4 linked regions of the Homo sapiens genome follow. The protein of the gene in region 1 interacts with the protein of each later gene in a pairwise test. Each region holds a gene or a part of one and is shown in the gene's direction. Other genes may lie near its edges. The genes, in order: MIPOL1, MYLIP, CDK18 and NEBL.

What was found.
Region 2: the proteins of MIPOL1 (region 1) and MYLIP interact in binary tests that used the Homo sapiens proteins (3 or more experiments, as listed by UniProt).
Region 3: the proteins of MIPOL1 (region 1) and CDK18 interact in binary tests that used the Homo sapiens proteins (3 or more experiments, as listed by UniProt).
Region 4: the proteins of MIPOL1 (region 1) and NEBL interact in binary tests that used the Homo sapiens proteins (3 or more experiments, as listed by UniProt).

The regions. Positions count from the first base shown.
Region 1 is NC_000014.9:37,200,917-37,207,941, forward strand, and holds part of MIPOL1 (mirror-image polydactyly gene 1 protein), read left to right. Parts: intron 1-7,025.
Region 2 is NC_000006.12:16,124,744-16,132,097, forward strand, and holds the start of MYLIP (E3 ubiquitin-protein ligase MYLIP), read left to right. Parts: upstream 1-4,342; 5' UTR 4,343-4,579; coding exon 4,580-4,666; intron 4,667-5,813; coding exon 5,814-6,004; intron 6,005-7,354. UniProt on the Homo sapiens protein: E3 ubiquitin-protein ligase that mediates ubiquitination and subsequent proteasomal degradation of myosin regulatory light chain (MRLC), LDLR, VLDLR and LRP8. Activity depends on E2 enzymes of the UBE2D family.
Region 3 is NC_000001.11:205,521,660-205,528,684, forward strand, and holds part of CDK18 (cyclin-dependent kinase 18), read left to right. Parts: intron 1-1,487; 5' UTR 1,488-1,508; coding exon 1,509-1,638; intron 1,639-1,823; coding exon 1,824-1,966; coding exon of another isoform or gene 1,967-2,056; intron 2,057-2,572; coding exon 2,573-2,698; intron 2,699-3,479; coding exon 3,480-3,536; intron 3,537-4,405; coding exon 4,406-4,520; intron 4,521-4,707; coding exon 4,708-4,802; intron 4,803-5,115; coding exon 5,116-5,178; intron 5,179-6,134; coding exon 6,135-6,258; intron 6,259-6,388; coding exon 6,389-6,509; intron 6,510-7,025. UniProt on the Homo sapiens protein: May play a role in signal transduction cascades in terminally differentiated cells.
Region 4 is NC_000010.11:20,887,310-20,894,334, reverse strand, and holds part of NEBL (nebulette), read left to right. Parts: intron 1-4,385; coding exon 4,386-4,490; intron 4,491-6,127; coding exon 6,128-6,238; intron 6,239-7,025. UniProt on the Homo sapiens protein: Binds to actin and plays an important role in the assembly of the Z-disk. May functionally link sarcomeric actin to the desmin intermediate filaments in the heart muscle sarcomeres.

The DNA.
Region 1 (7,025 bases):
TTTTGAGACAAGGTGTACCTCTGTCACCCAGGCTGGAGTGCAGTGGGGTGATCTCGGTTCACTGCAGCCTCTGCCTCCTGGGCTGAAGTGATCCTCTCACCTCGGCTTCCCAAGTAGCTAGGGTTACAGGCACACACCAACATGCCCAGGCTAATTTTAATATTTTTTTGTGGAGATGGGGTTTTGCCATGTTGCCCAGGCTGGTTTTAAACTCCTGAGCTCAAGTGATCCTCCTTCCCCAGCCTCCCTAAATGCTGGGATTACAGGCACAAGCCACCACACCTGGCCAGTATTGTAAAGCAGCATGTGTTATAGTGTTTTGGTGTTGGATTTCAGATCTCTAAACATACTTTATTTGGTTTACCAGTTTTACCTTAAGACTAATTAGAGGCCAGTTTGATTCTTGTCTGAATTGTTTTTACTTCTCCCACTTTCTTCTCACCCTGTAAATCTGAAGAACAAAAGACAGGTAAGAAGTGAGAAAAGAAAGAAGAGACAGTCTTTCTTTGATATTATTTAAAAGGCTAGGAAAGAAAAGGATGAATGTCTAGACAGTTCTGGATATTTTGAGTAAAAATATGTAAAAATATATAATATAGTTATTGTAATATTTTAAGGTGCATTTTGTCCTTTGAGCTGTTCCATCTTGGGTTTTCTGACATTTTTATCTAGTGATTGAGTACACTCATGATATAGGACGTAATAGCCATTGACTTGGGCCGTGAAGCTCAACTGTGACACCTCTTCCCAGGATGGAGGCCCTTTCTTCCTTAAATGTCTCTTTGGGCTGCCCAGTTCATCTTTTACTCTTGGCCCCCTGCCTTTTGCTCAGTATTGCCCAAAATTTTACTTTAATACCATTCAGCCCACCATCCATGTTAACATTTTTAGCTAACACTTTCTAGGTATTTGTTGTTGTTCTTGTTGTTGCTTTTAGAAACAGGATCTTGCTCTGTCACTCAGGCTGGAGTACAGTGGTGCAATCATAGCTCACTGTAACCTTGACCTGGGGTCAAGCTGTCTTCCCTGCTGCAACCTCCCAAGTAGATAGGACTGCAGGTGCTCAACATCACACCTAGCTATTTTGTTTTCTGTTTTTGTTGAGACAGAGTCTACCTTTGTTGTCCGGTCTAGTATCCAACCCCTGGCCTCAGGTCCTCCTGCCTCGACCTCCCAAAGTGCCAGGATTACAGGCATTAGCCACTGCACCAGCCCATTTCTTGTTTTTAAGTAATTTATAGAAGTGAATTTAGTGCACATTTAGATATATGCTAATACTAATGAAGGGTGTGAGGGTAATTTCATCAGTGTGATCCTTCTTTGATATGTATAATTGTTTTTTTTAGTCTTACTTGATTGTTATGCAGATAGATTTAAGAGGGGCCTCACCTTCCACTATCAATTCATTGCAGTTAAGTAAGCTTTTCTCATATAGAAATTCTGGATCCAGTACATACTGCATTTCATTACACACACACACACACACACACAAACACACACACAATGACTAATGTAAATACCTTCCTGCTTTATAAGTCCCACACAAAGCAATTGTGTTCATATGCGTGTTTTTCATGGCACTCCTTGAATCAGCTTGGAGTCACTACAAATTATTATGGGTAATAAAGGGCATGTGCCAGTAGGAGGGATTCTCAGACAAGGGAGTCCCCTCCCTCCAGGGCTTCAGACTTCATAAGGGAGCAAATAGGGAATTTATGTGGCACAAATATTTAATTTGTACGATCATCCTTAGGTGATGCTTTCATATTAGTAAGGATGTATTTGTGAGTCCAATTGTAGTCATTAGCTTCTGACCGTACCTTCTCCCCTGCATATTGCCTGCACTACATTGCCATTGTTGACTTCTGGGACAATTTTCCAGGATTTCATTACTAACAAACCTTGCCTTTTCTGGTTGCAGTTTTTAGATACTTTATTTAGGTTACATTTAATCTTGTTTACCATATTTAGGGTGACTGTGTGTTCAAGGTGAATGTATTTGTCTATTGCTTATTTGTTGCTTTTATAATTTATTTCCAGCAAATCTTATTACTAGTACGTCCAGCTACCTGGGACTGGGGATGGGCAGATGACTCACTTCCACTTGCAACTTCACGTACCATCTAGAGATGGCTTTAGGGTTGATGAGAGAAAAAGAGATAATGCACAAGATTAATCAATTGTAGCTGCTTTTGTCAGCATTGTATTATTATTCTCTCTATTGAATTTATTAGATTTTGAGACTATCATAAAGAGAAGATAGAACTGTTTTAGAGCATTAATTACAAAAACAGTTTACTATAGTGGAAAGAGCACTGGGCATAAGAGCAAAATAAGTGTGGCTCACTACCTGTTTGTTTTAACTTTTCCTGGAACTCAGCTTTCTTTTGTGAAATGAGGCCTTTTGATGAAGTATCTCTAATCTCTGGTAATCTTTTTCAAAAGACTGCCAAGAGACCGTAGGGGTCATTTAGGCTACCTTCTCAGTTTAGTCACATAGTTACTAGAACCTATTTTTGTTCTGGTTTTTATTCCAGTTGCTTTTTCCATTATACTACCTGTGATAGGGAGCCTTCTAAAATGACCTTGGTATTCACTCTTGTGTAGTTCCTTCCTCTTGAGGGTGAACTAGACCTAGAGGCTCACTTCTACTAGAATATGGCAAAAATGGTGTGATGTCACTTCTCAGATTAGATTACAAAATCTATGACTTCCCTTTTTGCTGGCACTCTGTTGCTCACTCACCTTGAGGAAGTCAGCTGTCATGTTGTGAACTGACCTGTGAAAAGGCCCACCTGTCAAGGAACTGAAGGGGACCTCCAGCCAGTAAGGAACTGAGGTTCTCAGTCTAAAAAACCTCAGGCATTTGTTTATTTATTTATTTGAGATGAAGTCTCACTCTGCCGCCCAGGCTGGAAAGCAGTGGTGCGATCTTGGCTCACTGCAACCTCCGCCTCCCGGGTTCAAGCAATTCTCCTGCCTCAGCCTCCCAAGTAGCTGGGACTGCAGGCACATGCCACCACGCCCAGCTAATTTTTTATATTTTTAGTAGCGACAGGGTTTCACCACGTTAGCCAGGATGGTCTTGATCTCCTGACCACGTGGTCCGCCCACCTTGGCCTCTCAAAGTGCTGGGATTACAGACGTGAGCCACTGCGCCCAGCCCCCTCAGGGATATTAATCCTGCCAACGACCACCGAGAGAGTTTGGAAGCAGATCCTCTCCCTGTTGAACATTGAGATGACTGCACCCCTGGCTGACACTTCGATTCCAGCCTTTTGAGAGACCCTGGGCTGGAGGACTTAGCCAAGCAACACTCAATTTCTGATTTTTAGCAACTGTGAGATTGCAAATGTGTATTGTTTTAAGCTGTTGAATTTGGGTTTAATGTGTTAAGTAGTGAGATTGCAAATGTGTATTGTTTTAAGCTGTTGAATTTGGGTTTAATGTGTTAAGTAGTGATATAGTTTGCCTGTGTCCCCACGCAAATCTCATCTTGAATTGTAGCTGCCATAATTCCTTCATGTTGTGGGAGGGATCCAGTGGGAGATAATTGAATCATGGGTGGTTTCTCTCATACCGTTCTCATGGTAGTGAATAAGTCCATGAGATGTGATGGTTTTATAAGGGGAAACCCCTTTTGCTTGGCTTTCATTCTTTTTTGCTGCCGCCATGTGAGATGTGCCTTTCACCTTTCACGATGATTGTGAGGCCTCCCAAGCCACGTGGAACTGCGAGCCCATTAAACCTCTTTCTTTTGTAAATTGCCTGGTCTCAAGTATGTCTTTATTAGCAGCGTGAAAACGGACTAACACAGTAAACAGACTAACACAGTAAATGGACTAATACAGTAGAGTGGGGTGCTGCTGAAAAGATACCTGAAAATGTGGAAGTGACTTTGAAACTGGGTAACAAGCAGAGGCTGGAATAGTTTGGAGGGCTCAGAAGAAGACAGGAAAATGTGGGAAAGTTTGGAACTTCCTGGAGACTTATTGAATGGCTTTGCCCAAAATGCTGATAGTGATATGGACAATAAAATCTAGGCTGAGGTGGTCTCAGATAGAAATGAGGAACTTGTTGAGAACTGTAGCAAAAGCAAAGAGACTGGCGGCATTTTGCTCCTGCCCCAGAGATTTGTCGAACTTTGAACTTGAGAGAGATGATTTAAGATATCTGATGGAATAAGTTTTTTGTTTTTTTTTTTGAGACGGAGTTTTGCTTTTATTGTCCAGGCTGGGGTGCAGTGACACGATCTCAGTTCACTGCAACCTCCACCTCTGGGTTCAAGTGATTCTCCTGCTTCAGCCTCCTGAGTAGCTGGGATTACAGGCATGCACTACCACGCCCAGCTAATTTTTTGTATTTTTAGTAGAGACAGGATTTCATCATGTTGGCCAGGCTGGTCTGGAACTCCTGACCTCAGGTGATCCACCCACCTCGGCCTCCCAAAGTGCAGGGATTACAGGTATAAGCCACTGCACCCAGCCAGTGGAAGAAATTTTTAAGCAACAAAGCTTTCAAGAGGTGACATGGCTGCTGTTAAAACACATTCAGTTTTTTTTTTTTAATACCTTAAGTTCTAGGGTACATGTACACAAAGTGCAGGTTTGATACATAGGTATATACATGTGCCATGTTGGTTTGCTGCATCCATCAACTCATCATTTACATTGGGTGTTTCTCCAAATGCTGTCCCCCGCCAGCTCCCCATCCCCCAACAGGCCCTGGTGTGTGATGTTGCCTACCCTGTGTCCAAGTGATCTCATTGTTCAGTTCCCACCTATGAGTGAGAACTTGCGGTGTTTGGTTTTCTGTCCTTGTGATAGTTTGCTCAGAATGATGGTTTCCAGCTTCATCCATGTCCCTGCAAAGGACATGATCTCATGCTTTTTTATGGCTGCATAGTATTCCATGGTGTAAATGTGCCACATTGTCTTAATCCAGTCTGTCATTGTTGGACATTTGGGTTGATTCCAAGTCTTTGCTGTTGTGAATAGTACCATATAAACATACATGTGCCTGAAACACATTCGGTTTTATAAGGGAAGCAGAGCATAAAAGTTCAGAAAATTTGCAGCCTGACCCTGCAATTGAAAAGAAAAACCCATTTTCTGAGGAGAAATTCAAGCCAGCTGCAGAAATTTGCCTAAGTAACAAGGAGCCAAATGTTCATCCCCAAGACAATGGGGAAAATGTCCCCAGGGTATGTCAGAGGTCTTCATGGCAGCCCCTCCCATCATAGGCCCAAAGGCCTAGGAGGAAAAAATGGTTTCATGGACCAAGCTTAGGGTCCCCATGCTATGTCCAAGGACTTGGTACCCTGTGTCCCAGACACGCCAGCCTTGGCTGAAAGGGGCCAATGTAGAGCTCAGGCCATGGCTTCAGAGTGCGCAGGCCCGAAGCCTTGGAAGCTTCCATGTGATGTTGAGCCTGTGAGTGCACCGAAGTCAAGAACTGGGGTTTGCAAATCTTCGCCTAGATTTAAGAGGATATATGGAAATGCCTGGATATCCAGGCAGAAGTTTGCTACAGGGATGGGGCCCTCATGGAGAACTTCTGGTAGGGCAGTGCATAAGGGAAATGTGGGATTGGATCCCCCACACAAAGTCCCTACTGGAGCACTGCCTAGTGGAACTGTGAGAAGGGGGCCACCATCCTCCAGACCCCAGAATGGTAGATCCACTGACAGCTTGCACCATGCTCCTGGAAAAGCCTCAGACACTCAACACTGATACGTGAAAGCAGCTGGGAGGGAGGCTGTACCCTGCAAAGCCACAGGGGCAGAGCTGCCCAAGATGTAGGAACCCACCTCTTGCATCAGTGTGACCTGCATGTGAGACATGGAGTCAAAGGAGATAATTTTGGAGCCTTAAGATTTGACTGTCCTGCTGGATTTTGGACTTGCATTGGGCCTATGGCCCCTTCATTTTGGCCAATTTCTCCCATTTGGAATGGCTGTATTTACCCAATGCCTGTACCCCCATTGTATCTAGGAACTAACTTGCTTTTGATTTTGCAGGCTCACAGGTGGAAAAGACTTGCCTTGTCTTGGATGAGACTTAGGGCTGTGGACTTTTGAGTTAATGCTGAAATGAGTTAAGACTTTGGGGGATTGTTGGGAAGACATGATTGGTTTTGAAATGTTAGGACATGAGATTTGGGAGGAACCAGGGGCGGAATGATATGGTTTGGCTGTATTCCCACTCAAATCTCATCTTGAATTGTAGCTCCCGTAATTCCCTCATGTGGTGGAAGGGACCCAGTGGGAGATACTTGAATCATGGGGGCAGTTCCCCCATACTGTTCTCCTGGTAGTGAATAAGTCCAGGTGAGTTCTGATGGTTTTATAGAACCCTTTCGCTTGGCTTTCATTCTCTCCTGCCACCACCATGTGAAATGTGCCTTTTACCTTCCATGATGATTGTGAGGCCTCTCGATCCATGTGGAACTGTGAGTCTATTAAACCTCTTTCTTTTGCAAATTGCCTAGTCTTGGGTATGTTTTCATCAGCAGTGTGAAAACAGACTAATATAGGTAGCAATAGACAACTACACTATTCATTAATATCAGAAAAGCTTTAATCTGTTTTTATCAGTTTAAACTTATTTGAGGATATGATATTATTATTATTATTATTATTATTTTTTGAGATGGAGTCTCTCTCTGTTGCTCAGGCTGGAGTGCAGTGGCACGATCTTGGCTCACTGCAACCTCTGCCTCCCAGGTTCATGCGATTCTTGTGCTTCAGCCTCCCGAGTAGCTGGGATTACAGGCACGTGCCATCATGCCTGGCTAATTTTTGTATTTTTAGTAGAGATGGGGTTTTACCACATTGGCCAGGCTGGTCTTGAACTCCTGACCTCAGGTGATCTACCCACCTCAGCCCCCCAAAGTGCTGGGATTACAGGTGTGAGCCACCATGCCAGGCTGAGGGCATGCTATTTTTATATCTTGAAAAACCAATTATTAACAGTTTTAACTATAAATCCCATACTTGTTTTTGGTTATAATTTAATTGCTAGGTG
Region 2 (7,354 bases), on another chromosome or scaffold:
ATGGTTTCTATTTTTAAATTCTATATTCATACAGCTGACCTTTTTTTTTCCACTATGCTGGTTAATTTTAATGCTATCTTTAAAAGATGAGAGCTAATTGAGAGAAAAAGAGAGCAGACACAGATAACTTGGGCATCTCTCTGGCTTCAATCACTGCTCAATCTAATATAGTTCCCACCCTGGGTGTTCAGAGTCTCTTATTTGGAGTTAGACCCAGCTGGGGCTTGAAACTGGCTCCAGACATTCAGCAGCATTAGCAGATGGTGGAATCCTCGAGGAAGTAATTCTACTGCGGGTTTTCTATTCCCTAACCAGGTCTTTTGAGCATAATGTGCTTTCTCACCAGCTCACTCAGCCTCCTCATTCTGTAACTAACCAGTCTCTCCTTAGCTCTACTCAAGGAATAAATTACAAAACAGAGATGGAGAGAAAAGACAGAGAGAGAAAGCGAGGAGAGAGAGGGGTCATGGTCCAGTATATTCCATACATGCTAGTGGGAAGCCAGTATTTTTTTTTTTTTTTTTTTTTGCTTCCCAGTCATAAGGATTTCTTACTGCCCGCCCCTCCCACCCCCAAGTGCCATTTTCCTATTTTTAGCTTTGTTTTTGTTTTAAGAAATCCTTCTCTTCAGTCTTATCTGGGGATTCTTAATTTCAAAACAATTGAAATCTTCACCAACCATCCTATAGCAGAAGCACTATCTGGGTTTGGATTAGAAATATCCCTGTCACGAGCACAGTGGCTCACACCTGTAATCCCAACTCTTTGGGAGGCAGAGGCAGGAGGGTCGCTTGAGCCCGGGAGTTTGAGACCAACCTGAGCAACATAGCGAGACACCCATCTCTACAAAAAAATACAAAAATTAACTGGGTGTCGTGGCACCTGCTTGTGGTCCCAGCTACGCTGGAGGCTGATGCGGGAAGACTGCTTGAGCCCAGGAGTTCAAGGCCGCAGTGAGCTATTTTCACATCACTGCCTGCCCTCTAGTCTGGCAACAGAGCAAGACTCTGTCTCTGAAAAAAAATTAAAAAAAAAAAATTCTTGTAAATCTTCTACTTCCAACTATTGTGCAAATGACAATTGTTAAAAATAGGTCGGGGCGGTGGCTCACACTTGTAATCCCAGCACTTTGGGAGGCCAAGGCGGGCAGATCACTTGAGGTCAGGAGTTCGAGACCAGCCTGACCAACATAGCAAAACCCTGTCTCTACTAAAAAAGCAAAAAATTAGCCGGGTGTGGGGGCGCGTGCCTATAATCCCAGCTACTCGGGAGGCTAAGGTAGGAGAATTGCTTGAACCAGGGAGTCGGAGGCTACAGTGAGCCAAGATCATGCCATTGCACTCCAGCCTGGGCAACAAGAACAAAACTCTGTCTAAACAACAACAACAACAACAACAAAACTATGAAAAATGTGGGGTTTTGTTTGTTTTTTGTTTTGTTTGAGAAAGGGTCTCACTCCCTTCGGCCAAGCTGGAGTGCAGTGGTGAGATCATGATTGACTGAAGCCTGGACTTTCTGGACTCAAGCCATCCTCCCACCTCAGCACGCTGAGTATCTGGGACTACAGACACATGCCATCATGCCTGGCTAATTTTTTATATTTTTAGTAGAGATGGGGTTTTGCCATTTTGCTCAGGCTGATCTCAAACTCCTGGGCTCAAGGGATCTGCCTGCCTCGGCCTCCCAGGGCTCTGGGATGACAGGCATGAGCCACCACGCCTGGCCAAAAAGTTTTAAATAAAATAAACATGTCAGATTTTACCTATGCTTCTACAAACTATTTTACAAGCTTAGATTTTTTAAAAAAACAATGAAATCATACTTGCAAAAGAAAAATCCCTGCTAAAACCAAAAATATAAGTTATTTTTAAAGTAGTCCACAAAGTGGGTATTTGGTTTGGGTGTTTGCTTGTTTTATTTTTGTTTATTTTTTTTTTCTTGGCCAACCAATATTTTCCCGTTCTACTCATTTCCACACCTGGTCCCATTGATTCTATGAGTTTCCAGTTAGCCAGCTTTAGTTTCTATTGTTCATAAACAAAAATACTAACCAATATAACTGGTCTCCCTATTGCCCCTCGCCTCTTCTTCCTCTTCTGAAACTTCTAGCAATTAAGCATAAAGTAGACAAGGAATGAACCAAACGCTATCTTCCAGATAAATTCCCCAGATTATTAGTAAACTGGAATTCAGGGAATAGGCACTGCAGTTAATACAAGAAGGGACTGTTTCAGCCCACAATAGCATGAGGTGTATTTATAAGACAGAAAGATGTGAGAGTGCACCTGTTCCTCTGCAACAGTGGGGGTTAGGACTTGGACAGTTTACAGTTTTACTCGGTCAGCTTTAGCAAAGAACTGTGTGTGGGAGGATCCCTCCTTTTTTTTTAGCCTTGGGCTCTGATATCGTACCTGGTTGTTCGGAAATAAAGGCCACTAACAGATCCTTGGGACTCGTGAAGGGGGGTAGGGACAGGAAAAGTCATCATTAAGCAGTGAAGGCACTGAACTTATAGCTCCCCTTACATACACGGGGACATTCAAATGCTTTTGTGAACGTTATTATCTTTGCTGCGCTTCCCAACAATGCTGGGTGGAGACAGAGCAGATATTGCCATCTCCATTTTACTGTTGACAACACCAAGCTTCAGACAGATGAAGTAAGTTTTCTCTTTTTTTTTCTTTCGTTGTTTTCTTTTTGTTGTTGTTGTTGTTTAGAGACAGGGTCTTTTGCTCTGTCGCCTAGGCTGGAGTGCAGTAGGGGGATCACAGCACACTGCAGCCTCGAACTCCCAGGCTCAAGTGATCCTCCCACCTCAGCCTCCCATGTAGCTGAGACTACAGGCAGGCGCCACCACGCCTGGCTAATTTTTTGTATTTTGTGTAGAGATGGGGTTTCGCTGTGTTGCGAAACCGGGCTGGTCTCAAACTGCTGGGCTCAGGCGATCCTCCTGCCTCGGCCTCCAAAAGTGCTGGGATTACAGGTGTGAGCCATCGAGCTGGCCTGAAGTAAGTTTGCTAAGTTTCCACGGCTGAAACCCACATCATCTGGCTCCTATAAAGAAATCAAAAAGGTAGGCTATGTAATATATTGGCAAAGAGGAACAAGCGGTAAATGAGTGAAGGGTTGTAGACCTTTAATAGCTAATATTGCAGTAATGCCACCTGTTAGGTCAGGAGATGAGCACCTTACCTTAAGACGAGGACAACATCTGGTTGCCTGTGAGAAGGGACAGGCAGGGTATCAGGTGCTGCACAAATGTTTAATGAATGAGTGAGATAAGACAGGAGGTAGAATGAGCAACCTGAGAGAGGGCCTGGTACCCTGTAAGGCGTTTTGATTCAGCAGAACGAGTAAGGAGAAGCCCTTCCGGAGTGTAACACACCAGCACTAGACCAAGACACCTGGCTCACTGGTCAGCTGCAAAAACTTTCATACTCAGATTTTGTTTTTCTCAATGATGAGGTCTTAATAAGGAACAACAATTCTGCCTCCAAGCAACCCACTGTGGCTAATCCTGGTGGAAAAGAGTTTTCTTTTTCTCTTTTTTTTTTCTTTTTTCTTTTTCTTTTCTTTTTTTTTTTTTTTTTTTTTTTTTTTTTGAGACAGGGTTTTTTGCTCTTCTTGCCCAAGCTACAGTGCAGTGACACAATCTCAGCTCACTGCAACCTCCGCCTCCTGGGTTCAAGCGATTCTCCTGCCTCAGCCTCCCAGGTAGCTGGGATTACAGGTGCCCGCCACCACGCCTGGCTATTTTGTTTTTTTTTTTGTATTTTTAGTAGAGACGGGGGTTTCACCATGTTTGCCAGGCTGGTCTCGAATCTGACCTCAGGTGATCCACCCATCTCGGCCTCCCAAAGTGCTGGGATTACAGGCGTGAGCCACCATGCCCGGACGAGAACAGTTTTCTTTAGGCTTTGGGTTGCTCCTTTTCCTTTTTGCTTTCACAACCGAAATGCGTGCTCAGAGTGATCCAAGATATTTGAAGAACAGTGGCAGCTTGGAGGTGTTTAATCACCGTAAATTCGAGACGGCAGAAAGGCGTCCCCGCCTGGAGCCCCGGGCGATCGCTCACTCTGAGCAGCGTCGCCCAGCGGACAGAGGCGGCTGGTGTGTTCCGGGGTCTCCCTCCCTTCCCGCAGCACTCGGCGCCCGCAAGCTGCCACCTCCCGGGGCGGCCAGGGAAACTCAGCCGGCTCTGGGAGGCGGGGGCCGCGGTCGAGGGGCGCCGCTATTGGCTGATCGGGCGGGGGAGGAGGGGCAGGGAGGCCGTGATTGGCGGGGACCCGAGCTGAAGGGGGCGGGGCCGCTATATCAGCAGAGTCCCTGTCGCAGCGCAGGCAGTTGGGCTGCTGGAGTGCGGCGCCACCGCGGAGGACAGGGGCAGCTGGCGGGCAGCGGGTGAGGGGGTGGCGGGGACGCGAGTGGCGGCCGCGGGGCCCCGGACAAGGGTCCGCAGAGCTGCAGCCTTCGAGGGCCAGCCCTCTCCGAGTCCGGGGCTGGGTCCCACCAGTGACAAGGCGGCAGCCCCGCGCACACCAAAGAGAAGGCGGCTGTGGCGGCAGCGGCAGCCCCAGCCATGCTGTGTTATGTGACGAGGCCGGACGCGGTGCTGATGGAGGTGGAGGTGGAGGCGAAAGCCAACGGCGAGGACTGCCTCAACCAGGTGAGGGCGAGGGGCAAGAAGGGGCCCCGGCGGGTCCCGCGAGGCCGAGGGGCCTCGCAGCGACGCCTGGCACTCTGGCGCGCCCCCTACTAGGGGCCGGGAGGCACTGCGGCGGCAGCCGGGGGGAGCGCGTCCCCTCCTCTCCACGGGCGTGGGGCGCGCGGTCTCCTCCTGGCGCGCGTGGGGTGCGCGGAGAAAGCGCGCAGCGGGGGTCCCCAGCGCTGAGGGCCGGGCGCAGCCCGCAGCCGGGATCCACCCCCCAGCGCCCCATCATCCCCCCAACCCAGCACTTTCCCGGAAGAAGGCGGCTCCGCACACCTGCCGCAGGTATGTGCGTGATGCCGCCTGTCGGGTCCCCGCGGCGCCTGGCAGTGCCACCCGCGTGCCAGGATGGGATGGAGTGGCTCGAAGCAGTCTCGGGCCCCAGGGGTTCTTGGCAGACAAGCCGGGCCCTTGTCTCACGCTGCTTCTCAGGCTGCTGCTCTCAAATGCACCGTTCACCTGCATCTCCGGGTTTGCGGGGGACGGGAGGAATAGGTTTGGGTCATCTACTGCTCGGTTGTTTTTAAGCATGTGTTTCCTTAACAGTGAGGGAGATCGGTGCCAAATAGTGCAGAGGTGGTATGGCAGACAGCACATGTGATCCCAGGAAAACGCTGTGCCCTCAACCCCTCTAGCTCTGAGATGTTTGGAAAACCGCTTGTGAAGCTTAGCTGACACTTGTGGCGTGTTCCCTCAATGTGTTTGATTTTTGGAGTCCAAATGGTTAAAATTGCCCAGATAATAAGTCGCCAAAAATCAGCTGTGCAGAGTATGCTGGTGGAGGGAATTCCGGTGATTGGAATACGAAGGAAAATACCCTGTAGTTTCCCCTCCTCATCTTTTGGAAGGCTACTTTTGAGGACTCCTTTTTTCTCTATTGCAATTGGTCATGCCCTAGACGTTAAAAGGAATTATGAGCCTCCATACTAGAGCTCGTGGTTTGGTATCATTGGAGCCGTGGAACTTTGTTTTTCCAGTTTAGATCAGGAATTGTAACACCATTGAACTTTGTAAAAAGCACCAGCAATCTTAGCCTCAGGGAGCCGTTGGGTTTGCTTTGATACGTACCATTTGCTCATCCAGGCTGCATTCCTTTTTGTTTTAGGTGTGCAGGCGACTGGGAATCATAGAAGTTGACTATTTTGGACTGCAGTTTACGGGTAGCAAAGGTGAAAGTTTATGGCTAAACCTGAGAAACCGGATCTCCCAGCAGATGGATGGGCTAGCCCCTTACAGGCTTAAACTTAGAGTCAAGTTCTTCGTGGAGCCTCATCTCATCTTACAGGAGCAGACTAGGTAAAGTGAGCTAAAATAAACCAATGTCAAATTGACCTTTGGTTCCCTTTAGAAGGGCCGCTGCACCTTCCCAGAGATACTCACAGGCAAGTTTGTTTTGATGCGGAGTTCCATCTTAACTTAGGTTTTCCATGCAGGTCCTTTTGTTGAGGTGGAGGGGGAGCTACCTACTTGGTCTGAGTGCATTTTCCAATCCTTCTTTTAGTTTTTCTTGTCTTTATAAACTTGATGGGTGAGCAGGGTTGAATTCTTACAAACACTTGAGATAAGTGCTACCCCAGGAAAAAAAAAAAAAAAAAAAGAAACCACCCTACCCGAGTGACTGACTTCCTGATAGCAGCATCTAATGCCCGATAGTAACCTCTGCCTCAGCAGTGTTACTATAGGTCATTGCAGACTGTTCTAACAGAAAGCAGGAAACAGTTCCTCTTGGGTTACTTAAACTTGGTCAGTTTCTTCAGCCTAGTGTCAGATTACAGTGTGCAGCCAAGAGCTCTGTTTGACTTCATGCAGAATTTTTAAAGTTTTTAAGTTTCTTGAAAATGTAATTTCATGAACTCTTCTAAGGCTACTGTAACTGAATTCCAACCCACAGATATGTTACACACGATTGGTGAGTATAGATTGAATTTATCTCTCTACGTTGTAAAACACCACCAACAGTGGTAGACAACTGAAGCATGTGGTCTCATTTTTCAAACAAAATATGTTCTCCCCTGGACTGACTCTAATACTTGATTCTCAAGAATGAGCCAAACTAGGAAATTGATATTTAATATTTATTGAAAGGCAGGAGACTTCAATCTTACAGTGGCATATCAAAAAATTAAAAAGGAAAACAGCTACTTTGAAGACATAGCAAGCTTTGGATCTAAGTTCTAATGTTTTTCATAATTCTTTGGCTGAGAAATTTGCCATGCATATGAAAAATGTGATTCTAAAAATTTTAAGTAATGATGAATGAGCATTATCCTTTAAGAGTTTTTTACATGACATTTGCTTGTTTGTTTTACCAAAGGACTGATAAAGACTCATTTTGAAATACTTATCATTTGAATTTGAAATTTCCACTTTGCCTTGTAATCGAGCTTTAAAGGTTGAGGCAGACGTTTAATTTTGTTTCTGAATGAAGATGGTATATTGAGTTCTTGGTACTCCTGAAAATATCTTGCAAAATATTCAAGTGATTGCATGCTTAAGGATGTTTTAGCTGTCTGTATTAATCAGAATAGACTTTTTAAAATTATTATTTAAAGCCGATTTGTGAAAGCTTTGCGCTTCACTGTCATAACTTGCAGTCGAATACAAGATATAACACAACATATTGGAATTTTCATTGTGTAGTCCTAT
Region 3 (7,025 bases), on another chromosome or scaffold:
AGGATCAGGGCAGCTGGAGGGCCACCACTGAGCTGTGTTTGGGGGCAGCCAGGAGCATGCGCTGCCAGACAGAGGACCCTTTCCAGGCTGGCTGAGGACAGAAGGATGTGATCATTAAGCAAAGCCAACATGTTACTGACCCATAATCCCTTAAACCAGGAGGATTCGGGAAGGGCCTGGTCGCCTTGGCAACTAGGTGCTGGCCAGTCGCAGGGCTGAGAGCATCCTCCAGGAGTGGGCTGTGCCTGGTGCTGGTGCATGGGTAACAGCTGGGAGCGGGTGCAGGGCGGCCCATCATAGGGCTCACCCCCTGGTGCCTTCTTGCCAGCATGGGTGGAAGCCCTTGTGAGGCCTCAAGGGCAGTGTGTGCAGAGCAGGATGAGAGGGGGGCTGCACTGAGCGTGTAGGAAACCATGAAGGGAAGTGGAGGGGAGGTGAGACAGCGCTGCTCTGGGTTTTCAGGGCAGGAGGGAGAAGGGAGGGTCTGCAGGAAGAAGCAGTTGCATGGGTCTCATTGGGTGGCCAGCAGGGCATCCTCTAATTCAGAGGGCACGAGGAGCTGGGTAGCCTGAAGAAGAAAGCTTTCATGGTTGGGGACAGGACCGTGGGGGTGGGCAGAGCAGCTTACCCCGCTCCTCCATGGTGTTCTCGGTAGGGGATACCTGCCTGCTTGGAGGGCTCTGGCATGGGAAGAGGCCTGCAGGGATCAAGCCTCATCTTCCCTAGGGCTCGACTCTATTAATGGCAAGCTTCCGTGTTTCCCCTGAGACCTTCCACTGCTCCTGACCTCCTGTATTTCAGCTGGAGAGAAGGTGCAGCTGGCCAGCTCTGATGCACTCTTCCCTTCCTCCTCTTTTTCCCCTCTTGCCTCCTGGGGCATGCCAGAGCAGAGACCTTCAGGTGTCAGTATCAGAGGTGAAATGAGGTTTGGACCCAATCATGTCCCAAGGGTGTTGGCCAAGCTGACATTCAGTTTACGGGCCTTGGTCAGTAAGATTTATTGGCTGTTGACACATTCAGGCCCTTGGACACAAGTTGGTAAATTTCTGCTGGTCCAAGGACTGCCTGGTTCTGGCACCCTCCCTGCCACCCCAGCCCTTCCCCCAGAACTCTCTAGACCTCCAGCAGCTAAAGGGCTTAGGTCTGGGGGGCCTTCAGGATCCTCTTTGCACATCATGCCTGCTATTATGACCAATACTTTGCTGGACTAGGTGGTCCATAGAGAACTGCACAGGGCGTGGCGGGGCGGGCGGTGGGCAGTGGAGGCAGTGCTGAGGGTCACTGGGAGGAAGAAGGTGACTGGGAAGAAGAGGGTGAACACCCACCCTCAGAGGGGTCAAACTTTGCAGAAGACACAACCCTGGCTCCCAGTGATGGTGGCATACAGGGCGACAGAGCTTGATGAGAGAGCTGAATTCCCAGTGGGTGGAGACCTGGACTGGTTGCCTTGTTCTTTTCAACTGCTCTTCTCACACTTCCCATCTCAGGACCCGGCTGCCCAGTCCCTCATGATCATGAACAAGATGAAGAACTTTAAGCGCCGTTTCTCCCTGTCAGTGCCCCGCACTGAGACCATTGAAGAATCCTTGGCTGAATTCACGGAGCAATTCAACCAGCTCCACAACCGGCGGAATGAGAGTGAGGGGTCTGGGCCCACCCAGCACCTCTCCCACCTACCAGACACTCCCCAGTCACCTTCCCCTCCCCGCCCACCCCCTCCCCACTGGCCTTAGGGGAGGAGCACAGCGCTGGGGGAGGGGGGCTACCCTTCTCTCCCTCAGGACAGAGAGGCAGGGAGGGGAGCTGACGCCTGTCCCTCTTAGACTTGCAGCTCGGTCCTCTTGGCAGAGACCCCCCGCAGGAGTGCAGCACCTTCTCCCCAACAGACAGCGGGGAGGAGCCGGGGCAGCTCTCCCCTGGCGTGCAGTTCCAGCGGCGGCAGAACCAGCGCCGCTTCTCCATGGAGGTAAGGGCCTCTGGAGCTCTGCCCCGGCAGGTGGCAGGATGCACGCACAAGGGTGTGCACAGGAGGGCAGCTGCCTTACAGCCAGACTTTGTGAGTTCAAATTCCACCTCTGCCATTCATTAGCTCTGTGACTTTGAGCAAGTTACTCAACCTCTGTGCACCATGGTCTCCTTGTCTTTAAAATGGTCATCATGGATTAAATGGGTTTATCTATGCCAAGTGCTTAGAACATTCCTGAATTTAGCAAGGGCTAGACAATTTGACTATTTGATCCACACACATATGCCCAAGTATATGAAAAAATATACTTACAGAATCGGTGCCTGTAAGGGCATGAGACTGATGTTGCACAGATGGTGATACTGTGGCCCAGAGAGGCAGAGAGTGACCTGGCTGTGCTAAGGTCACACAGCAGCCCCGGGTGTTCACGTGTATGTCTTGAGCACACACTGGGAGCAGCTGTGAGCCTGGGGTCACAGCCTGTGATTGGGCTCTGAATGGTTGTTCTGCAGGGAACGCTAGGTCCAGAGTGAAAGTCTGGAGCCCCACAGCCCTAGCTACCCTGAAACCAACAGTGGTGTCCCCATCTCATCCCTGTCACCACAGGACGTCAGCAAGAGGCTCTCTCTGCCCATGGATATCCGCCTGCCCCAGGAATTCCTACAGAAGCTACAGATGGAGAGCCCAGATCTGCCCAAGCCGCTCAGCCGCATGTCCCGCCGGGCCTCCCTGGTGAGTCCCAAGAGGGTCAGAGGACACAAGGTGGGGTGATATGCCCTCCCCAGCATGGGCATATCAGTCCCAGCTGAGGCCTAGATGGGATTTCGAGGAAGATTCCTGGGCCTCTGGTGCCACCTGCTGGCTTGAGTGCATTCAACTAGCTCGTCCTCCTACATCAACATCCATTTCCTAGATGGGTCTCACTTGGGCTGGAATGGGACTCTAAGCCCACAGTGGGTCCCACGGTCTCCACATGGTTAAGATCAATAGGCCAGCTGGCATGTGCCTTCCAGTCCTAACTGCCTATCAGAGCTGTTTGGGACATCTTACAAAACACAGACTCTACCTCCAGACACCTATAGAATCAGCCTCTCCGGCTAGGGGGTCCAGGAATCCGTCTTGTTAAGGGTTGGATACACCTGAGCTAGAAGTGCGCTGATGAGAGACACAGTCAGAGAGGTGGATTCTGAACTGGACACTCAAGGTACAATGGGAAAAAAGGCAGCACTCACTCTGGAGGAGCTCGTGGTCTCAGTCGGAGACACAGGTAGTCAAGATGTGCAACAATCCCAGGTGCCACAGCTCTGGGCTCTACACTCTTGGCTGTCCTGGGAGGAAGAAACTCACACTTTCACGAGCTCTGTCCTTTATCACAGGGATAAAGGGAAAAGGAGCCCCTTCCACCATGGAGTCTCATCCCTTCCCTCCCAGAGGCTGGAGTTGGGGGAGGCGTCATGTCTGTGGAGCTGCTAAGGGCTTCAAGCTCACGGCATTCTATGTCTCTCCCTCTCAGTCAGACATTGGCTTTGGGAAACTGGAAACATACGTGAAACTGGACAAACTGGGAGAGGTAAGACGCTGGGTTTGGTCTTCTCCGAATAGCCAGGCAGGATGGCTTGGAGGAGGGGCAGACCTCCCTAGTCGGCCCTCTCTGGTCGGCCCTCTCTGGTTGGCCCTCTCCTGGCCCCTGCCCCATAGAGGTGCACAGTCTTGGCTGTGCGCTCTGGCCCAGGCTTTGGCAGGGATTGAAGTGAGCTCAGATCCTGAAGGAGGGCGTGAGGATAGAGTAGCCATGGCCCTGGGCAGAATCCAGTCTTTTTTTTTTCTGCAAGTCCTTCTTGCCTGGGTTCAAAACCTAGCTCCACCATTTACTAGCTCTGTGACCTTTGGCAAGTTACATGACCTCTCTGTGTGCCTCAGTTTCTTCCTCTGTCCAATGAGACAGTAATTGTCCTATCACATAGGGTTATTGTGAGGATTGGGCAGGTTACTGTAATCAGCTTATGTACGGCACACAGACAATGCCTGGCACATAGGAAGTGCTGTGTCACTTAGCTATTTTTGTTGTCACTGTGCAGAGGCCTGGGGTGGGTGAAGGTTTATAGAGAGAGGGAACACACAGCCCTTTCCCTCCAGGAGCCCAAAGAGGTGACCTCTGTGTAAACATCAGCATCGTATAAGGAAGAAAAAACCTGGTGTTATCATAGACGGGCACGCGGCGTGCTGGGGCTTAGAGGAAGGACGGATTCACTCCGACTGGGGAGTCATTAGGGATGCTTCCTGGAGGAAGTAGGCTTTGGAGGAAACAGCATGTCAGTAAAGGGAGGAAGGGCACTCAGGCCCCAGTCGTAGCCCAGGCAGAGGCACAAATGGGGAGGCACTGGACAGAGGCCAGCAGCACCTGAATGCGCCTGGGGCCGCTGTGGCCCTCCATCCCAGGGCACCTATGCCACAGTCTTCAAAGGGCGCAGCAAACTGACGGAGAACCTTGTGGCCCTGAAAGAGATCCGGCTGGAGCACGAGGAGGGAGCGCCCTGCACTGCCATCCGAGAGGGTACAGCATCCTAGGCTCCCACGCTCCCCTGGGGGCTTCAGGAGGAGGGGTTCACCAGCCTGCACCCTTGTGGGAGCTGGGGGTAGAGGATCATTGCTGGAATGGGACTCCTGGCGCTGACCCCAAGAAAAGAGGGTATGGGGACACATGGGGTCCTAGGGACCCAGGTGGATCTGTCTCCTCACAGTGTCTCTGCTGAAGAACCTGAAGCACGCCAATATTGTGACCCTGCATGACCTCATCCACACAGATCGGTCCCTCACCCTGGTGTTTGAGTACCTGGTGAGAGTCCGGCTGGGGCTGGCCGCCTCTCCCTCTTGTGGTGGAAACGGGGTGTGGGTAGGGGAGTGGGAAGCTGAGGGAGTGGGAGTAGTGGGATGAGGGCGACCCAGGCCTTGTTCTGGAATCAGATTTTCAGATGCTCCCGTGCAGGAGTGGGCCAAGAGCTCAGGCTTACGGGTGGCTCGAGCCAGGGACCTGTCCCACTAGTGGGCGTGGGCCCTTCCCAGGGAGGGGCTTCCTCTCCTCAGCCTGTGTCTGGGCTTCTGGCCAGGGGTCAGCGTGGGGCAGGACTGAGCCACGCTCTGTGTTCCAGGACAGTGACCTGAAGCAGTATCTGGACCACTGTGGGAACCTCATGAGCATGCACAACGTCAAGGTGAGGCCTCGGGGGCAGGGTCCCCCCATCTTGGCAGCCACCTGTCCAGAAGCCCAGTGTGGGGACCCACTCTCACCACCAGGGATCCGGCTGCTGAGGTGGCTCAGACCTTCCCACGTAGGAAAGAGGGAGAGGGCAATGCCATCAACGAGTCCAGGAACTGGGTTGAGCGCTTTACCCCAAGAACAGACACACACTGTCTGCCACTGTCTAGCTGTTGGTATAAAACCCACTCTCAACTCTGAACATCAGTTTCCCAGTCTGTCAAATGGGAGTGTGAGCTACCTGCCAAAATGCAGGGAGGCTTCTGGGGAAGCTCGGGGTTATGAATGACCTCTCCTGGTGTTTGTTAAAGAATCAAGGCTGGGCATGGTGGCCCACGCCTGTAATCCCAGCACTGGGAGGCCAAGGCAGGAAGATGGCTTGAGCCCAGGAGTTTGAGACCAGCCTGGGCAACATGGCAAGACCTCATCTCTACTAAAAATTGAAAAATTAGCCGGGCACAGTAGCGTGCACCCATAGTCCCAGCTGCTTGAGAGGCTGAGGCAGGAGGGCCACTTGAGCCCGGGAGGTTGAGGCTGCAGTGAGCCATGATCACACCACTGCACTCCAGCCTGGGTGACAGAGTAAAACCCTGACTCTAAAAGAAAAAAAAAAAAAAAAGGGATCAAGCACATATGTCTCCACATAGGCGGGCATCCTGACCCCCGTGCTCCTGACTGAGACTTCGCTGGCCTCCCCCACACTCACTGCGTCCTCTGCACCCCTGCTGTCCTCCCCTCTGGATGGGATTCCCTGGTGTGGGTGGGGTCCAGGATGGGGGCTGCAGGGTGTGCAGGAGAATGAGGGGCTTGTGCTGACCTCACTGCCAAGCCCCTGCCCCCATCCTGGTCCCAGCCTTGGAGCAGAGGCTCAGGGCCACCTTCCACCCCACATTTCTCTTCCCCCTCCCCCAGATTTTCATGTTCCAGCTGCTCCGGGGCCTCGCCTACTGTCACCACCGCAAGATCCTGCACCGGGACCTGAAGCCCCAGAACCTGCTCATCAACGAGAGGGGGGAGCTGAAGCTGGCCGACTTTGGTGAGGCTGGGGCTAGGGTGGGGGTCTGACGCTACTGGGGTGCCTCAGGGTGTGGGTGCAGTGGGGGAGGGCATAGCAGTCAACCCCACAGCACCTGTGGACAGAGGTCCAGTGACATGTCTGCCCCCAGGACTGGCCAGGGCCAAGTCAGTGCCCACAAAGACTTACTCCAATGAGGTGGTGACCCTGTGGTACAGGCCCCCCGATGTGCTGCTGGGATCCACAGAGTACTCCACCCCCATTGATATGTGGTGAGTGAGCACTGTGGGGACCGAGGAGGGGAGGACAGGCCTGGCCACACCTCCAGACTCTCCTTTGCTTCCCCAAGGGCCTCGGGGAAGAACTGCCTAACTTCCTTTGCCTAAAAGCCTTGTGACATCCTGCTGAAATGGATGTTAAAAAATTAGGTCTGAAATATAATAGGTTAGGGTTTCCCTGGCTTAAATAGACCCCCAAGCCTGTGCATTTGAAATCCTCCCCCAGAGGCCTGTGGGGGGTTACCAGAGACCCAGAGGGTCCAGGAGGGCCCCTATAGTAAATACGATGAATCTTCCCCAAGCATCAGTCCCAGTGAAAATTTTGAAAGAGAAGTACTATTTTTATGTTAAAATGAACAAGTGTATGATTTGGTGTAAAATGAAAAATCAGCCCAAATTGCAAGCCAAGCCGCCGGTGGTTATGAATGGCTGCTGTGACTCCGCCCCAAGGTTCCCCAGGAGAATGGATTTATGTACTTCTCTTCCAGTGGGGCACACAGTGGAGAGAGT
Region 4 (7,025 bases), on another chromosome or scaffold:
TGCCTGGCTAATTTTCATTTTCTTTTTCGTAGAGATGGAGTCTCACTATGTTGCCCAGGCTGGTCTCAAGCTCTTGGCTTTAAGTGATTCTCCTGCATCGTTCTCCCAGAGTGCTGGGATTACAGGTGTGAGCCACCGGGCTGGCCCTGCTTCGTTTCTGTAGATGAGAGGGATGGTTTCATGGACTTCTCTTCATGGTGCAGCCTAATTGTTACTCTTTGGACTTCTTCCAGCTTTCATATATCCTTAATAACCAATATGTAATAATCAGAACTGTGCAGAGTGGTACAGATGTGGACGGTCTAGATCACGTGTAGAGCAGGATGATGTTTTGCTTAGCTTCTAGCACCCTTTATGATGCTATGAAGAGTTTCTTAGACTTGGGAGCTGCAGAAAGCTGTTAGATCAGCTTGATAATCTGTAGACCATCAGAGCCATTTCATTCCTAATTTCTGACCTGTAGCTGATAGCTTAGGACCCATCATCTTTAAATAATAGTTTGAATTATTTTAACCACACTAGGGCTAGATCTAATCTGTAGTTTTCTGCCCTCTTGCCTGGCCCTTTGAGAACTTCTGAAGTTCATCTCAGTTTGCCGTTTCCCTTACTGAGACAGCTTGGAGTCAGCAGACCTGTAGACACTGCTATATCATCCCCTTGTCAGACAATTTTATAGAAATGTTAAGCAAGATTGGCCTAGAGATCAGCCCTAGGAAGCCTGCACTGCTTAGAATTCTCCATAGAGAGAAATGTCCGTTTTTCAGGTCAAGTGGCTTCACTTTGGGCATCAGTATAAGGCATTTTTCTTTCTTTCTCTTTCTCCCCCCACCTAGTTTCTGCTTTGCACTTGCTCTACCCACATTATGGGGTTCCTCTTTGCACAACTCACTTCCCAGTCTTGAAGAACAGCTGGTCTTCTGAGGCAGCCTCTTTTATTTTTCTGTTAATCACATAATACTATTATTTTCTCAGATATATTTTCACAGATATTCTCTCTGTCATATTTATTCCTGTTAGTCTAACCTAACATTATCTAATCAATCCCTTGAATAAGTTAAACCTATCCTCTCTATTGAGCATTCAGAATCCTGGATCTAGTAGTCTTCTGATGGGGAGTCATAAAAAAGATTGGGCAAAAGGGAATCTTTTGTATGTTTCTTGTAGATTAGGCAGAAAGAGCCTTCTGCAGAGCAGGTGGACCACATCTGCATGCAGCCTCTCAGTGTTTAGTTCAAGGCTGTTTAGGGTGTTCATCTGCATGGCAGCAGGAAGAATATTTTCCAGGCAAATGAACGTTGTTGTGGGTAAATCCTTTCAATGCCAAAAACATTAAATTCTGTGGTTACTCCTCCAGAGAAAGCTTAGATGGTATCAGAAAACCTGGGAGAGTGATCTTAGCTATGTCCAGCCCAGTTAAATAATGATGGAGCCATTGTTTTTCCTTCCAGGGTGTATTGAATTTAACTTGTATGATTTCACTTGTGAAGAGCCTTTCCAGATACTTTCAGTTAAGAATTCTTGTGAAAGGAAAGATCCGCAAACATCTCCATGTCTGTCATCCGATTTCAGCCTTTAGCTAATCTCATACTCATTCAAACAAACTTGGCCAGGAGGAGGAAGCGACCCTGCACTAAATTCATCCTAATTGTAATGGAGACGTGGGATTTGTGGGTGAGGGCAAAAGAGAAGGTCAATGTTTGGGACATCTTAATGATCATAAAGTCATCAATTTTGCCCTTTTTGTCTTTTGGTGTTGGGTTGTGTATTCGGTAGGAGTGCAGATGACTGTAAAAACAGGAAAACTCTAACACAATGGCTTAACAAGTAGGTTTTTGTTTCCCCAGCCTCCACATATAAAGCCCGGAGGTAGGTAGTTCAGGCTGGGTACTATGGGTGTTATCAGTCTCCCAGGCTCCTTTCCTTCTATTCTGTCGTCATTAGTATGGTGGCTTATTCCTTGGTAATGACATCATTGCTGCTGCCTTCCCTTTGATTGAGAAAGAAAAATGTGGAAGACAGAATGTCACAGGGTTGTGCAGCATCTCTCCCTTTGTACCAGAAACACTAGAAGCACTTCTGGGAAGATTTCCACTAAAGTCACAGAGAGTGTGGCTCCCCAGGCCAAACACTGGATGGCATGACCATGCCTGGTTTAGATCAGCTTGTCCTCTGGGGCTGGGCAGGAGCCTGGCTGCTCTCATTAATCCATCTGGGCTCTTTTAATAGGAGATAATGGGAGTGGCCAGTCTATCCAATAGATGGTGTCAACCCGAAATTGTAAGATGTAGACATGGCTGTAATAAAATATAGCAATCTATTCAGTGATTTTTATTTTACCTAAGATTTGTTTCATTGACCAATATAGTTCCCTTTCAATGATCATTTCCTGTTATCTTGGTGTAGGAAGGCTACTAATATGTATCTAATATTTATATAAATATTCCTTATGTATTTAAAAATCTAACATTCTTTGCTTATTGTCATTCATATTGCACAATTCACTTGAAATCACACATGATTGTGTGTGACTTCTAACAAATTGTACAATTTCTCTTGAATTGTACAATTGTAAAGGATCTTAAATTTTAAATACACCTTCATTTAAAATATACAAATATGTGTATCTTTTTAATAAAGACCCAAGAAAAAAAAATAGAGTCTACAATTAAGACTGAGCTATTTGTCTGCCTAACAGAAGAAGTAAATACCTCACCCTTATCCAGTCCTCCTGTCCTGAACGTTCTGCATGTGTCAGACTTTATCAGGAGGCTGTAGCCACAAGCACATACCACTGCAGTGAAGAATGTGAATGTGATGGGGAATAGATGGTGGCAAAAGATAAAAATAATGAGTCAAACTTAAGCCTAATGATAGGCTATTTTCTCTCACACTTAATTATATAACGGAGATACTTTTTTCTCCATATGATCAAAATAGCCTACTATTTATCATACTGCCATTAACAGTTTAATTACTAGTGGCTGAGGAGGGTGATTTGCAGGAACCTAAAATTATGGCTAATCTCTGAGAAGAAAAAAAAGTAATTTAGTGCTCAGATAAGATAAATATGTTCTCGTGTTGATTTCATGAATAAAGCAAATGTTTAATGTGGTAGGCATCTGATATCCAAGAGTCACAGCAGTGAAATATGGGATTTTGAAATAACTTCACTTAATCTGTATCTAGTTCTACCACAGGTTAAGTAATGCCCGTCAAATCAGGCTTGCATATGGGAAAATCTCCATGTACCATTAGTGTATAACATCAATATTATTCACATCCTCTAAGAACCAGGTAGTATATACAATTCAGCTCCACTTTTGGGTTATAATTAGGGAGAACATATAATTTATCATCTGAAACAGGAACACTTTTTCAGTTTAAGTATTTATGGTCTTGGGAGGATAAACACGAGCATATTACAGAGTGATACAACTTTTAGCAAATTACCTGCATCTTCTCAATGAGTCATAGTTTTGCCTTCCCAGTTTCCAGATTGTGCAGCAATTAGTGTGACAGTGTGATTATACTTTAGGTCCTTCTCCACATTTCCTGACTTCTTTTGGGCTCAAATATCCACCCGGGTCTTCCCCCGGCATAACAATTCTGGCCTATCCCCAAAGGGGAAGAGAGTGAGTCATTTGACTTGTGAGTTGCAGAGAAGAGATGAGCAGGTTTAGCTAAGCCTCACTGGGCTTTGTCTTGCTGATCTCCAGCAAGAAGGCCTTCTGGAATGATCTCCACCACATAGCAAGCTTTCTGGGCAGGTTCAGTTCTTCTCTGCGCTCAGGAGGAGGATTGGGAAGCCTATGGGTGCTCATAAATTGGGAGGAATTAGTAACAGGAAGCCCACGTTGGCCACAATTTAAGCCTCTTCCTCTAATCAAGCATGTCTAGGTAATAACGGTAATAGTGATCCCCATTTAATTTCGCCTCTACTTCTTAATTGGTCACATCTGTCATGCTGACTACTTATTTTCTACCTTGAGGTAGGCAGCTGTGTTTCTGTTTGGCCAAAGGCTTATGTGTCAAGGCTTAAAAGCAACAAAACACCAGGACACTTGTAGGAGCGAGATGGCACATGCTTGCTAATTGCACTGGGCTGGCTGGGTAAACAGGACCCATCACCCGTAGCCAGCACGCCTGGTGTTGATGCTTAACTGGACCCTCGCTTATCTAAAGAATGGTCTTTCCTCACTATGCCTCATCATCTTTGCAATCCTGTGCTGGATAGCCGTTTATTTAACTTGGCTTGTTTTGAGGTCCCTTTCACACTTGAGTATTTACTTCAGTAAATGGACTTTATCAACCTAATTATCATTCAAAAAAGGCCATTAGAATTGTTTTTCTTTTTCTCTTCTTATGTAAATCATTCTCTTTTTTAGATCCGTTATAAAGAAGAGTTTAAAAAGTCCAAGGATAAGTGTACATTTGTGACTGACAGTCCTATGCTAAACCATGTAAAAAATATCGGTGCTTTTATTTCTGAGGTAAGGTATCAAAAGCTTGCAAACTGGCTTGCATTTATCTTTTTCTTATTATATAGATGAAAGTCTGTGCATTAAAGAGATGAAGAATAATATTTTCAAAAGCACTACTGAATGTTAGTAATAGCTACATAATTATCTAATGTGATGCGCTGTCATTTAACTCATATAGATTGACAGATTTTACTATGTATGCTTCATACATTTTATTATATATGTCTATATTTTGACTCTAAATCTTTCTTATTTATATACGATTCCTCTTGAAAAGGCATCTTTTTATTAAATAAGTAAAAGCACTGGCACAATAGTTCACTTTAGAAGTTCCATTATTTTGTTTCCTAATAGATATATCAGAGATAAATGATTGAATATCATTTTGGAAATAAATAAGATTTACCAGTTTTCTAAAATGTGATATCTTTGATAAATAATTTTAAATGTATTTAAACTATTTTGGAGTAGGATAAAGTTCAGTTCAACAGTGATACCTATTATAAAATCACAGACTGAGGAATACGCTATATTCATTTTCCAGCTGAAAAATTATGTAGTTTCTTTCTGAGAGCATTTAGAACTACAGTTTATGTTGCATTGTAAAGCACAATGTTAACGATGATGATTTCTGTGGTGAGGCATTACTGTAGTCTGTGAATAGATCACTTAGAAGAGATACGTTTGAAAAGAAACGGAAATGAAATAGTGTTGTAAATGACTGACCTCTAGTGTTTCATAAATTATGTTGGAAAAAGATCAACTGGATGTCCTTGGGATTATTTCTGCTAATGCGAAACAATTTTGAATGAAATCAGTACGTTTTCTTTCATTAAGTACCAAAATCCAAAGAGTGTGGTAGCAGAAGGCTAGCACAGGATCTGTGCTCAATAAATCAATACTGAAATCTAGCTCTGAGCAGGAAGAACATCAGGAACTCATCTGCAGATAATGGAAGAACATAGTTTGTTTGTCTTAGCTATGTTCCATTCTCCCGTGCAGATAAATACTTGATGTTCTCAATTATTGATTATGTTTCCTGAAGGAGTTAATTGCAGAGCAAAATATTGGAAGTGAGCAATCTATTGTGTTCCCTTGAACCTTAGTTTTCCCAAGAGGAAAGAGTGTTTGTCTTTAGAGTAGTGACTGAGATGGCTTAAAGACAGTGCAGGCTAGAGGTGGGTAGGCACATAAACAACAAAAAAGCACTCACTCCCCTCTCCCCCTGGAGCAGGAGGAGGCTGAGAAGACCTGAATAAAAGAACACTGTCCTTTGTCAAGTTCTAGATAGTAGATTCTAACGACTTGCATTTTCTGGAACAACTCGAATTGTTTGCTCACTCATCCAGCATGAAACTGTCAATATACACAAATAGATTTACTTTTAGAAATGTGCTTGCATTTAAATAGAAAGCCATTATGTCCTTGCATGTCTCATTGAAAGCGTTCTCTATGATAAATTGGATTTATTTCTATCTCTTCAGAATCCTGGAGTTTGTCAGCTCTGGTATCTAAAATTAAAATGGTCTGCAGATTTTAAAATCAATTCTGTTTTGGGAGAAAGTTTCTTCTTTTCTACTTATAATCACAGTTTAAAAAAATGGAAGTTTATTTATTTATTTTTTTCCTGTTTTTTTTTCCCCCAGGCAAAATACAAAGGCACCATTAAAGCTGACCTTTCTAATTCTCTTTATAAGCGGATGCCAGCCACAATTGACAGTGTTTTTGCAGGAGAAGTTACACAGCTCCAGAGTGAGGTAGGGTTTTTCTAAAGTGTTTCATGATTTTGTAGATAAAACATATAACTGGAAAAAAGCTACTTAGCGTTTTAATAAAACGTTTTCATCATGGGTGTTAAATACCAAATGAAAGTTGAAAGCAACTGATTAATGTGCTGTCAGTAGTTGCTGTTGAAATTGCAGAAAATGAAAAGGACACGCAGGTTTATGTCAGTCACATGGTACTGTTTTCTGAGTCCCATTCAATGCAATTTATAGAGCAAATCTTAATCTCATTTAGACAGCTTACATGGATGAAATTCTTATAGTAAATATTAAACTGTTCTCTAATTTGATATATGATCCCTAAGTAGAGAATATTTGAATAGCTTGTTAAAAGCCACATAAAGAGATAATGGGGCTGGACACTCTGGCTCAGGCCTGTAATCCCAGTACTTCAGGAGGCCAAGGTGGGCAGAATGCTTGAGCTCAGGAGTTGAAGACAAGCCTGGGCAACATGGCAAAAGCTGGTCTCTACCAAAAATACAAAAATTAGCCGTTTGTTGGCATGCACCTGTGGTGCCAGCTACTCAGGAGGCTGAGGTGGGAGGATTGCTTGAGCCTGGGAAGTTGAGGCTGCAGCGAACCAAGATCATGCCACTGCACTCCAACTAGAGCAACAGAGTGAGCCTCTGTCTCAAAAAAAAAAAAAAAAAAAAAAAAAGGTTGAATTCAGGATCCACAGATCTGCTTCATCAATTAGACAAGTGTTTCCTGAATTTCCTTTTCTGTAGATTGTGTTTTTCCTTTAGGATATCTCAGGCTA